3 linked regions of the Homo sapiens genome follow. The protein of the gene in region 1 purifies or fractionates together with the protein of each later gene. This does not show direct contact. Each region holds a gene or a part of one and is shown in the gene's direction. Other genes may lie near its edges. The genes, in order: ILKAP, PAK2 and MYO1B.

Region 1 (3,656 bases):
CTTGGTAGCTGGGACTACAGGTGCGCACCACCACAGCCAGCTAATTTTTGTATGTTTTGTAGAGACAAGGCTTTGCCATGTTGCCCAGGCTGCTCTCGAACTCCTGGGGCTCAAGTGTTCTGCCCACCTTGGCCCTCCCAGAGTGCTGGGATTACAGTGGTAAGCCACTGTGCCTGGCTGAGCCATTAACAGTTGTTTAAAAGTGGAAAAACGCAGTCTTAAATGAATTATGGGAAAGCACTGAGTGTCCAAAGGGAGAATACTACACTGCTTATATCACATCAAATGTATTAATATTTTGTTTAGATCTTTTTATTTTTGTTTTAAACGTTGCATCTAATGTTCCCACCCCTAAACCTCTTAAATGTTTATAATCTAGAAAAATACATAGAATGCACTAAATATTTCAGGTATTTTGCTAAATTAGTAGTTTTCATCCAAGCCCTTAAAAGTTTTAATTGCTGAATGAATCAAGTTTTTTAAAGGAGAGATGTATATATTTTACCTAAAAAAAAGTGTTTGTTCATATCAGGCAGAAATGGAACTTTCCTATGTCATACCCATAAAAGTGCCGACCTGATGTCTTTAAGATTGGCAGCTTATATTGACAATCCATGTATGTCAGTTGAAGGTGTCATGGTTTAAAATTGCTTCGCCAGTAACTTGATTTCACTTTTATAGGGTGGTTCTTTTACTTATTTGGTTGCTACACTAGTACTTTAAAAATTGATGGTCAGTTGTTGAGGAGGAAATAAAATATTTGATGGCCACACCATCTTAAAAATACTTTAAAAAAATTGGAGGCTGGGCTCGATGGCGCATACTTGTAATCCCAGCGCTTTGGGGGAACAAGGCAGGAGGATGGCTTGAGGCCAGGAATTTGAGAAGAGCCTGGCACAACTTCGTGAGACCCCTGTCTCTACGATTAAAAAAAAAAAAGAAGAATATTTGAACATAAAGGTTAAGGTATTAGAGGAAAACAGATTGTAAAACTACAGGGTTGAACAAGAAAAAAGTCATAAAAAAGTGAATTTGACTATGTAAAAATTTAAAATTTCTGCAGGACAAATGATACTATAAAGGCAAAAGACAAACCGAGAAAATAATTGCAATATACATTACTAAGGGTATAAGAAAGGCTCACAGAATTGATGGGAAAAAATAAAACCCACTAGAAAAATGGTCAAAGGATGTATCCTCCCAGTTCAGAGGTAAGGAATACAAATGGCCCATCAACAGAAAGTTGCTGAGGAACTATTTACCTTTTCACCCATCAGATTAGCAACAGTTGGTAACATTGGTGAATGTGTAGCGAAGTAGACTTTCTCATAAAGTGTTTTGGGAGTGAAAATTACAACTTTTTGGGGAACAGATTTTGGCTTCTATCAGATTTAAACTAATATCCTTTGACGAGCAGTCTAGCAGATTAAGCAGGAATACATGTATCAGATTGTTGATTGTGGCGTCACTTATCATATGAAGAACTGGGAAAAGCTTGAACCCATCAGTAAGGATCTGGTCGAATGAGTGGAGATGCTTCCCATGTGTGGCTGTTGGAGAGGATGAATTAGACTTGGGTGTGTTGGCCTGGAGCATGCCTTGATGGGTTATGTGAACACTATATGTGGAGTATTGTGTAGAGTATGACTCTGTCTTCTACAAATTAAAATGCATGAGTCCATGTGCATGAGCATTAAGGAAAGTGGAAAGGATACACTAAACTCATACTGTGGTTGGGGGGTGTGGCGGAACCTGTCCCCCCTTTTTTCTGATAATACCTCTGTGGTGTTTGGAAAACACCTGGATTTATTTTATAGTTGAAAAAATTGAGGTATAAAAAACAATTTAGCCAAAATATTTTAACATCCTTTTTTAACTTTATTGGATACAGCAACCTTTAACCTGAATATGATCAACCCAAGGGTATTTTTCTCAGCATAGTATATAACTTCCAGTAGACTTAGCTCCAGAATGTAGATAACTGAGGAAAAAAAAAAGTTCTAGATGAGATTAACTATGATTAATGGACATTTTTAGTCTTGTATTCTTATTAGGGTTCTAATATTTTTAAGATTAGGGGAGGGGCCTCTTCCAGATTTTTAGGTCAGGGTCACACTTTGTCCAATGATTGCAGCCCCCAATGCTTTGAATTTCAGTTTATTCAAAATAGAATGTAAGGGCCTGGAGCAGTGGGTCACATCTGTAATCCCAGCACTTTGGGATGCTGAGGCAGGAAGATTGCTTGAGTACAGTAGTTCGTGACCAACCTGGGCAACATAGTGAGACCCCGTCTCTACAAAAAGTTAAAAAATTAGCTGGGCATGGTGGTGTATGCCTGTAGTTTCAGCTACTCGGGAATCTGACGAGGGAGGATTGCTTGAGCCCAGAAGGTTGGGGCTGCAGTGAGCTGTGATCACACCACTGCACTCCAACCTGGCTCACAGAGCGAGACTCTTGTCTCAATTTAAAAAAAAAAAAATCTAAGGTTTTGACTAATCAGTAGTTTCCTTATGTATCTATGACCTATAGATTTTTTTTTAAAGAATCCACATACAGACTTCTAAGTTAGATTCTTTTGATGATGCAAAAATTATTTCCAGAGATTTTATAAAATCTCAGGATTATCATCATAGGATTGTTGTAAGGGTAAAATGAGTTGATGTTTATGAAGTTTCTGGAAGGGTGCCCATGTATGGAGGCAGCATAGTACCTCACTAAAAGCACGGACTGCATGGCTTTGAATCCCCACTCCACTCCTTACTGGCTCTGTGATCTTGAACAGGTAATTGACCTCAGTGCCTCAGTTTTTTCATCGGTAAATAATAATAGTACCTATCTCATAAGAATTAAATGAGAAGATGTGTGGAGCTCTTAGAATAGTGCCTGACAGGCAGGCAGTATTATCATTTTTAGAAGCCATTCCCAGTTGTGGCCAGCAAAATGTAGGATGGTCTCATTGTGTTTAATTGAAATACCTCTCATAGTATTCCAGAGTGAGAAAGAAGGTGATAGGCAGTTCTCTGGGGATGGGGCTCAGTTTGGGGCACCATCTGACTGAATTGTAGCCAGAGGAGAGGCGGCCAGGCTAGTATTAATACTAAGCTGTAAGTTGCATTGTGAGGAATGCTTACAAGAACTGAAAATATATTTATTACCTGGGTAAAAGAAGACTTCCTCCCTTGTACAGTGGCAGTGGAAAGACCTGATTTAGATGGGCAAGTTAATTCAAAAGTTAAAATATGACCTGGTACAAGCGGAAGGGTTGTTTGCTCTTCATGTTGGGCTGTTACCTGTAAATGTCCCCTCCCTTGTCCTAAGACATCTGGCTCTGTGACACCACTGAATGCAGCGTGATTGTCTGGAACATCTCATGTGGTTTTTGAGTCTGTCCGGAGAACGGGCGTTGTGATTGTTAGACCCAATGTTTGGGCAAAAGTGACCTACTTCGGGATATTAGGAATTCTTGTAAGTGGATTAATACATTGAGTAATGGTTATCCTAAATACTTTTTTTGGGTGCTGGGGACAGAGTCTGGTTTTGTCCCCCAGGCTGGAGTGCAGTGGCGCTATCTCAGCTCACCGCAACCTCCGCCTCCCAGGTTCAAGCAGTTTTCCTGCTTCAGCCTCCCAAGTAGCTGGGGCTACAGGCACCCGCCA
Region 2 (3,301 bases), on another chromosome or scaffold:
ACAAAGATTAGCAGGTCATGGTGGTATGCATCTGTAATCCCAGCTACTCGGGAGGCTGAGGCAGGAAAGTCACTTGAACCCAGGAGGCAGAGGTTGCAGTGAGCCAAGATTGCACCACTGCACTCCAGCCTGGGTGACAGAGCAAGATTCCGTCTCAACAAAAAAAAACAAAACAAAAGCAATATGTATTGCATTTATAACCGAAGAAAAACCAAAGGTGAATCTGATTTCAGAAAAGTAACTTAAGGAAATGTAACATCTAAAAATAAGAGGAAAGTATCAAATCTAAATTTAAATGGGATAATGATAACCCCAGTTTAGTATTTATGGTGATTTTCTTTAAAGAAGAAAGAATCCCTTAGACTTTATGGAGTGCTCTGTGACCGTGTTGAGCTATCTTAAGTGGATCAAAGATGTTCTTCTATTTTTAGGCCTTGTACCTAATAGCAACTAATGGAACCCCAGAACTTCAGAATCCAGAGAAACTTTCCCCAATATTTCGGGATTTCTTAAATCGATGTTTGGAAATGGATGTGGAAAAAAGGGGTTCAGCCAAAGAATTATTACAGGTAAATTTAAAAATGATTTCATTTGGGGGAATAGTTGACTTTTTTGGTAACCGACAGAAAGCTTTCCTAGGGCTAATAAGTAGATTTCACTACTCATTGATCACCAGCGGTATGGCAGCTGCTGCAATTTAGGGTTTCATCCTACCATGCTGAGCAAACTACCGCAAGGACAGAAAACCAAACACTGCATGTTCCCACTCATAGGTGGGAATTGAACAATGAGAACACCTGGACACAGGAAGGGGAACATCACACACCGGGGCCTGTTGTGGGGTGGGGGGAGTGGGGAGGGATAGCATTAGGAGATATACCTAATGTAAATGATGAGTTAACAGGTGCAGCACAGCAACATGGCACATGTGTACATATGTAACAAACCTGCACGTTGTGCGCATGTACCCTAGAACTTAAAGTATTAAAAAAAAAAGTGAGGGTTTCATCTGCTGTGAATAAAATTCTGACAAAACCGTAATGTGCAGTTTGTGCATCGTATCAATCCTCAGACCTGTTTACAGTTTGTGCATCGTATCAATCCTCAGACCTGTTTACAGTTTGTGCATCGTATCAATCCTCAGACCTGTTTACAGTTTGTGCATCGTATCAATCCTCAGACCTGTTTACAGTTTGTGCATCGTATCAATCCTCAGACCTGTTTACAGTTTGTGCATCGTATCAATCCTCAGACCTGTTTACAGTTTGTGCATCGTATCAATCCTCAGACCTGTTTACAGTTTGTGCATCGTATCACTCCTCAGACCTGTTTATTGCTGTTGTGTGTATATTTGTCAAACTAAAATGATTCTGCTTTCATTCAACTCTGAAAGTAATGCGTTGATTATGTTAGTCTTATGAAGGTATTAATATGTGTTTAGTTTATTAAATTATGATCGACAAGTAGTCTTTGGGGCTTAATTGAACAAAATTATTTTGTTTCTAACCTGATGAATGGCACTTATACATTTATTTTTCCCCTTCTTTCTGGCAGCATCCTTTCCTGAAACTGGCCAAACCGTTATCTAGCTTGACACCACTGATCATGGCAGCTAAAGAAGCAATGAAGAGTAACCGTTAACATCACTGCTGTGGCCTCATACTCTTTTTTCCATTTTCTACAAGAAGCCTTTTAGTATATGAAAATTATTACTCTTTTTGGGGTTTAAAGAAATGGTCTGCATAACCTGAATGAAAGAAGCAAATGACTATTCTCTGAAGACAACCAAGAGAAAATTGCAAAAAGACAAGTATGACTTTTATATGAACCCCTTCTTTAGGGTCCAGAAGGAATTGTGGACTGAATCACTAGCCTTAGGTCTTTCAGCAAACAGCCTATCAGGGCCATTTATCATGTGTGAGATTTGCATTTTACTTTGCTGACTTTGTTGTAATAGATCCCATTCATTGTCCCCTTTGGGGTATTTCCAATACTTGAATGGCAGATTGGAGTTTTTCAGAGTATGTGTTTCATCTGCTAGTCTTTCTCTCCTTCATAGCTTTTCTTTTCCTGGACTTGCTCCTTTTGAGTTGCTTTTGCGTTTCTCATGCCTAGGCAAGTGTAATAGAAATTATGTAGCTCCTTATGTTGGCAAAGGAGCTCTATATAGTTTCACTTTGTATAAAAGTTAGGACCAGCTGTTGTTACATGTAATATTTTAGTTCAGAACTTGACCTGAAGGAAGGGAAGAAAAGTATGTGATTTTTACCTTTTTTAACAAATGTGAAAAAGTCAGTTTTAGAAATTTCGTGGTAGTAAGTTCGGCATTTGTTACATGTATAGAGAGAAGACTAATAATCTCTATTTATAACTAAATCATTGAGATAGAAAAAGATTCCCATTGACTGTAGACTTCTTCCCATTTTGTCTTCCCTTCTGCCTGTTTCCCCTTCAGGCTTGGCTCTAGGAACCAAAGTGATTTGTTGTTGTTCCAACCTGGGCTTTGTGACTTTGGTTAGTGCCACTACCTTCTTCCCTCCTTTCCCCCTTCAATTTGGAAATAAATTTCTGTATATGTTGCAATTTTAGGTTTAGGTTTGTTCTTTTTCTTTTTCATTAATCCTCTCTCACCTCACAGATACCCCCTCCCATGGCAAATAATATAATAACCAGTGAATTTTCAGGAATTTAAAAATTAGCTTTTTTCCACTTAAAGGAGAAAAATATTTGGGACTAGCAGCAGAGGCAGTAAGAGATGTGAACCTTGGTGAGCTCTGATACAGTGAGAAGAGATTATACTCATGAAAGAGAATGTTAGTGTTACAGAGAAGCAGCCGATAGCAAATCGACTGTAGAGACTTGGCGGCGGTGGCATTGCCCCAGGTCGTCAGCAGTGTGGTATTATCTATGAGAACTTGAGCGACAGAGTATTTCTTGATGAATTTATAGATCATTTGAGATGTTGAGTTACTTTAGTTTAGTTTTGTTTTGTTTTTTCAAATAAGTAGAGACTATTGTAAAAAACGAGAAAGGAAAATGAAATGTGCGTGTTGATAGCAATAATTTGTTTCTTTTAAAGATTCTAAAAGGTCTGAGACCTGTAGCATTAATTATTTGAGTGCCCTCCCTTCTCCCCTCCCCTCCCTTTTCTCTTCTCTTTTTTCCTCTCCTCTTCTTCTCCTTTATTCATTGTTTTGCTTTTGGAGTGGGTGTTGTTCAAGTATCTGTGGTTTGGTTCTGGCATTTTGTTCCCACCATCCCCTTCCCCCATTAACTTCCCCCCTGCTTGCCATCCTGCAGT
Region 3 (3,656 bases), about 47 Mb from region 1:
TTACATGAAAGCATTTTCACATTGCAACCACAACAAAAAGCTCCCCCAAAATACACAAAGAATCTTAATTGCAAGATTCCTGCTGGTCCCACTTAACATTTTCCAGTGTACACCTTCTCTCTCCATCATTGCTGCTTTGCTTTACATTTTATATTAGATCCTGAATTGCTATTTGTGATGTTCAGATTGCAAATATACTAGCTTCCTAACTGATCATTTTTTCCCTTAAAAGTACTTCAGAGTGATTGGTCACTGTTTTATTCATTTTAGACCCACAGTCTAAATGCTTTAAGGAAAAGCTTAATTTTCATAGACATTGGGCCTATGCCAATTTGCATGGCTTGTTATTTTTGTGATCCTCATATTATCTGCTTCTAGTCATAATCGGTAGATCACAGTTTTGAGCTACCCCTGATATAGTGAGCCATCTATGAAAAAGTTCTCGCTTGCCTGAAATTTTCAAAGTGTTGAGAGCTATTCATAAAAATGTATGAACTGCCACGTTGGTCAGGTTCAGGGCTTATTTGCCGTAGTACTCTGCAGGTATTCTGTGACATTCAGGAAGGAAAATAGAGTTAGACTCCTGATGTCAGCTTTGTAAAGGTTCATAGATGTCTCTTGAGTATCTGTAATTACATGATCTCTTAAAAACCTCTTATCCATGTACTGAAATTCATCTTGAATTGTTTATTTTTATCCTGCATTCACACAATTCACACTTTAAAGATAGAACTTGATTATATTGGTATTTTTATTTCAAATTTTCAATTTTTGGAATGGCAGAATGTTGCTATTGAAAAGTGTCTTAAAGGTCACCACTGTAACCCCTTCATTGTGCTTGAGACCTGCTCAGCTCCTAAATTTAACAGGGGACGGATCTGAGAAACTGACTCCAAGTTGTAACCTCTTGCTTAGTTTTCTTTCTAGGGAGATATCCGTCTCTCCAAACCTGTCGAAATCTAAATTTATTACCTCTTACCTAATACTTGGTCCCCTGTGGACTTCACTTCACTGTTTGTGCTAATAGCCTTTTCATCACCATCTTGACTTTGGATTCTAGAGCATCACCTACTTCCCCATTTTCTGTGACCCTTACATTCCTCCTGTCAGTCACTATGTCTGATTTATTGTTCTCCCCTATCTTTTGCCCTTTGCAAATCCTCAAGCCCTCATTCTGGTTCAGACCTTTAAAAGGCTGAGTTACTGGAGTATAGTGTTACCCAAAGTGAGTTGTTCCATAAAAAATTAGTAAGTTGGAAAAAAAAACAAAAAACAAAAAAATACCCTACCCATAAAGTTGGTAAATGTTCCTGTAAAAAGGGTTCCTTGGCCAGGTACATGTTAGAATAGCTGGTTAAGTTTCTTTGCAGAAAGACTTCTCCTGGCCTTCATTTGTGACTGTGTACTGTGAATTCCCAAGAGAAAGATACAGTATTCACTTGTCCCAACTTATGTCACCATTGTACCACGTTTTGGGGGGATCATTTCGTAGATAACACTGCTATAGTCACTTCACTGTAGCTTTTTAGGTTCTGTCACTGCCTGGCTTCCTGTGGGAATGTGCATTCCATGTGAGCCGTACTTGGTTCACTCTCAACTGTGTCTTGTGCTTTTACCTTGTTGTTCTGGATCGTTCCTTCCCCCCAGAAGCCCCTCTCCCCTATCACACTGGCACATCTTTCAGTGCCCAGCTTTGTGCCTGTCTTCTCTGTCAGTTTTCCCAGACTCAGGTTGCGCTTGTTCTTCTGAACTTAACTGTTTCACAACTTAAAAAAAAAAAAGAAAATATTTGAAGCACAATGAAATGTTGAAAGTAACCTTACACATTCATATGGTTAAATTATTGGAATTCCCACAAAATTCCATTTTCCATATTTGCGTCAGTTGACACATCACATGCACATCACATTCTCCTCTGTTTCCCCCCACAGGTTAGCTTGCACATATGTTCAACAAGCTTGTTGCTTGTGGGGCTTTTTTCTTTAATTTTGTGTTACTGAAATTGTGTTGCATTTAAATAGAAATTCAGGGAGAATTGACATCTTTATGGTTTAATGGCTTCCCATCCACAAACCTCATAAGCTTCTTTAATAGTTCTTTTATGTCCTTCAATGAAATTTTTATCATTTTGTATGTAAAACTCTTTCATACCGCTTGTTAGATTTGTGCCAAGGTGCTTCATGGTTTCTGTGGTCATTTTGAATGAATGATTTAGTACATTTCTGGTTAGTGTTGCTGGTGTACAAGAAAGGGATTGATTTTGTATTTGTTTATAAATAGTTCTTGATTGATCAAGTTCACATCTAAACCTGTGTTTGCTGTGGGAGCCTGCAGTTGGGTGGCTTTTCCAATACAGCATAAAATAACTTAGCCTTTATTGAAAATGTCATAATTCACTTTATTTTTATTTATTTATTTATTTTTTGAGACAGAGTTTCGCTCTTGCTGCCCAGGCTGGAGTGCAGTGGCATAATCTTGGCTCACTGCAACCTCCACCTCCCAGGTTCAAGCAATTCTCCTGCCTCAGCCTCCCGAGTAGCTGGGATTACAGGCATGCAACCACCACGCCTGGCTAATTTTGTATTTTTGGCAGAGATGGGGTTTCTCCATGTTGAGACTGATCTCGAACTCCTGACCTCAGGTGATCCACCCACCTTGGCCTCCCAAAGTGCTAGGATTACAGGCGTGAGCCACCGCGCCCGGCCTCTTTTTTTTTTTTAGAGACAAGTCTGGCTCTGTTGCATAGGCTGGAATGCAATGGCATGATCGTAGCTCGGTGCAGCCTCATACTCCTGGACTCAAATGAGCCTCCCACCTCAGCTTCCCAAGTAACTAGGACTATTGGTGTGCGCCTCCATGCCCAACTAATTTTTAAATTTTTTGTAGAGGTGATGTCTCATTGGTCCCAGGCTCCTGGCCTCAATCAGTTCTCCTGCCTTGGTTTCCCAAGTGCTGGGATTACAGGTGTAAGTCACCACACCTGACCTAATTTAAAAATTATATGCAGTACTTTTAGAAGTAAGGAAGGGGTGACTTTTAGTTATTTAATGTGTTCATTTATTAACTCATCAAATGTTTAGGTGCCTAGTATGTTTCAGGCACCGTACTAGGTACTGTGTTTTTGTTTTTGTTTTTGTTTTAGAGACAGGGTCTCTCTTTGTTGCTCAGGCCGGAGTACAGTGGTGTGAACATAGCTCACTGCAGGATCGAACTCCTGGGCACAAGTGATCCTCCTGTCTCCACCTCCCAAGCAGCTAGGACTACAGGCAGCATCTCCACACCCCACTCATTTTTTACATTTTTTTGTGGAGACGGGGTCTTTCTATGTTGCCCAGGCTGGTCTTGAACTCCTGGCCTCAAGTGATCCTCCCTCCTCAGCCTCTTGAAGTGTTAGGATTACAGGTATGAGGCACTACACCCATCCTGTACTGAATCTTTAATGTTGAACAAAACAGATGTGGTTTCTGCTCTCATGAATGTGAAGGGGAAGAGACATTGTGGAAATGGACACGGATAAATATGTATTCGTGGATTAGCATCGATACTGTGAAGGAAAAGGACAGGGGGCTGTGAGAAACAGAAAGGCGGAGAGAGGGAAATTTAGATTGGGGTACAAGGAGAGCCTGACTTAGGAAATAAACATTCACACAGCTGCC

The links.
Region 2: the proteins of ILKAP (region 1) and PAK2 fractionate together in Homo sapiens (co-fractionation; one large-scale study listed by BioGRID). This does not show direct contact.
Region 3: the proteins of ILKAP (region 1) and MYO1B purify together in Homo sapiens (affinity purification with mass spectrometry; one large-scale study listed by BioGRID and IntAct). This does not show direct contact.

The regions. Positions count from the first base shown.
Region 1 is NC_000002.12:238,197,061-238,200,716, reverse strand, and holds part of ILKAP (integrin-linked kinase-associated serine/threonine phosphatase 2C), read left to right. Parts: intron 1-3,656. UniProt on the Homo sapiens protein: Protein phosphatase that may play a role in regulation of cell cycle progression via dephosphorylation of its substrates whose appropriate phosphorylation states might be crucial for cell proliferation.
Region 2 is NC_000003.12:196,826,765-196,830,065, forward strand, and holds part of PAK2 (serine/threonine-protein kinase PAK 2), read left to right. Parts: intron 1-431; coding exon 432-569; intron 570-1,554; coding exon 1,555-1,641; 3' UTR 1,642-3,301. UniProt on the Homo sapiens protein: Serine/threonine protein kinase that plays a role in a variety of different signaling pathways including cytoskeleton regulation, cell motility, cell cycle progression, apoptosis or proliferation.
Region 3 is NC_000002.12:191,251,805-191,255,460, forward strand, and holds part of MYO1B (unconventional myosin-Ib), read left to right. Parts: intron 1-3,656. UniProt on the Homo sapiens protein: Motor protein that may participate in process critical to neuronal development and function such as cell migration, neurite outgrowth and vesicular transport.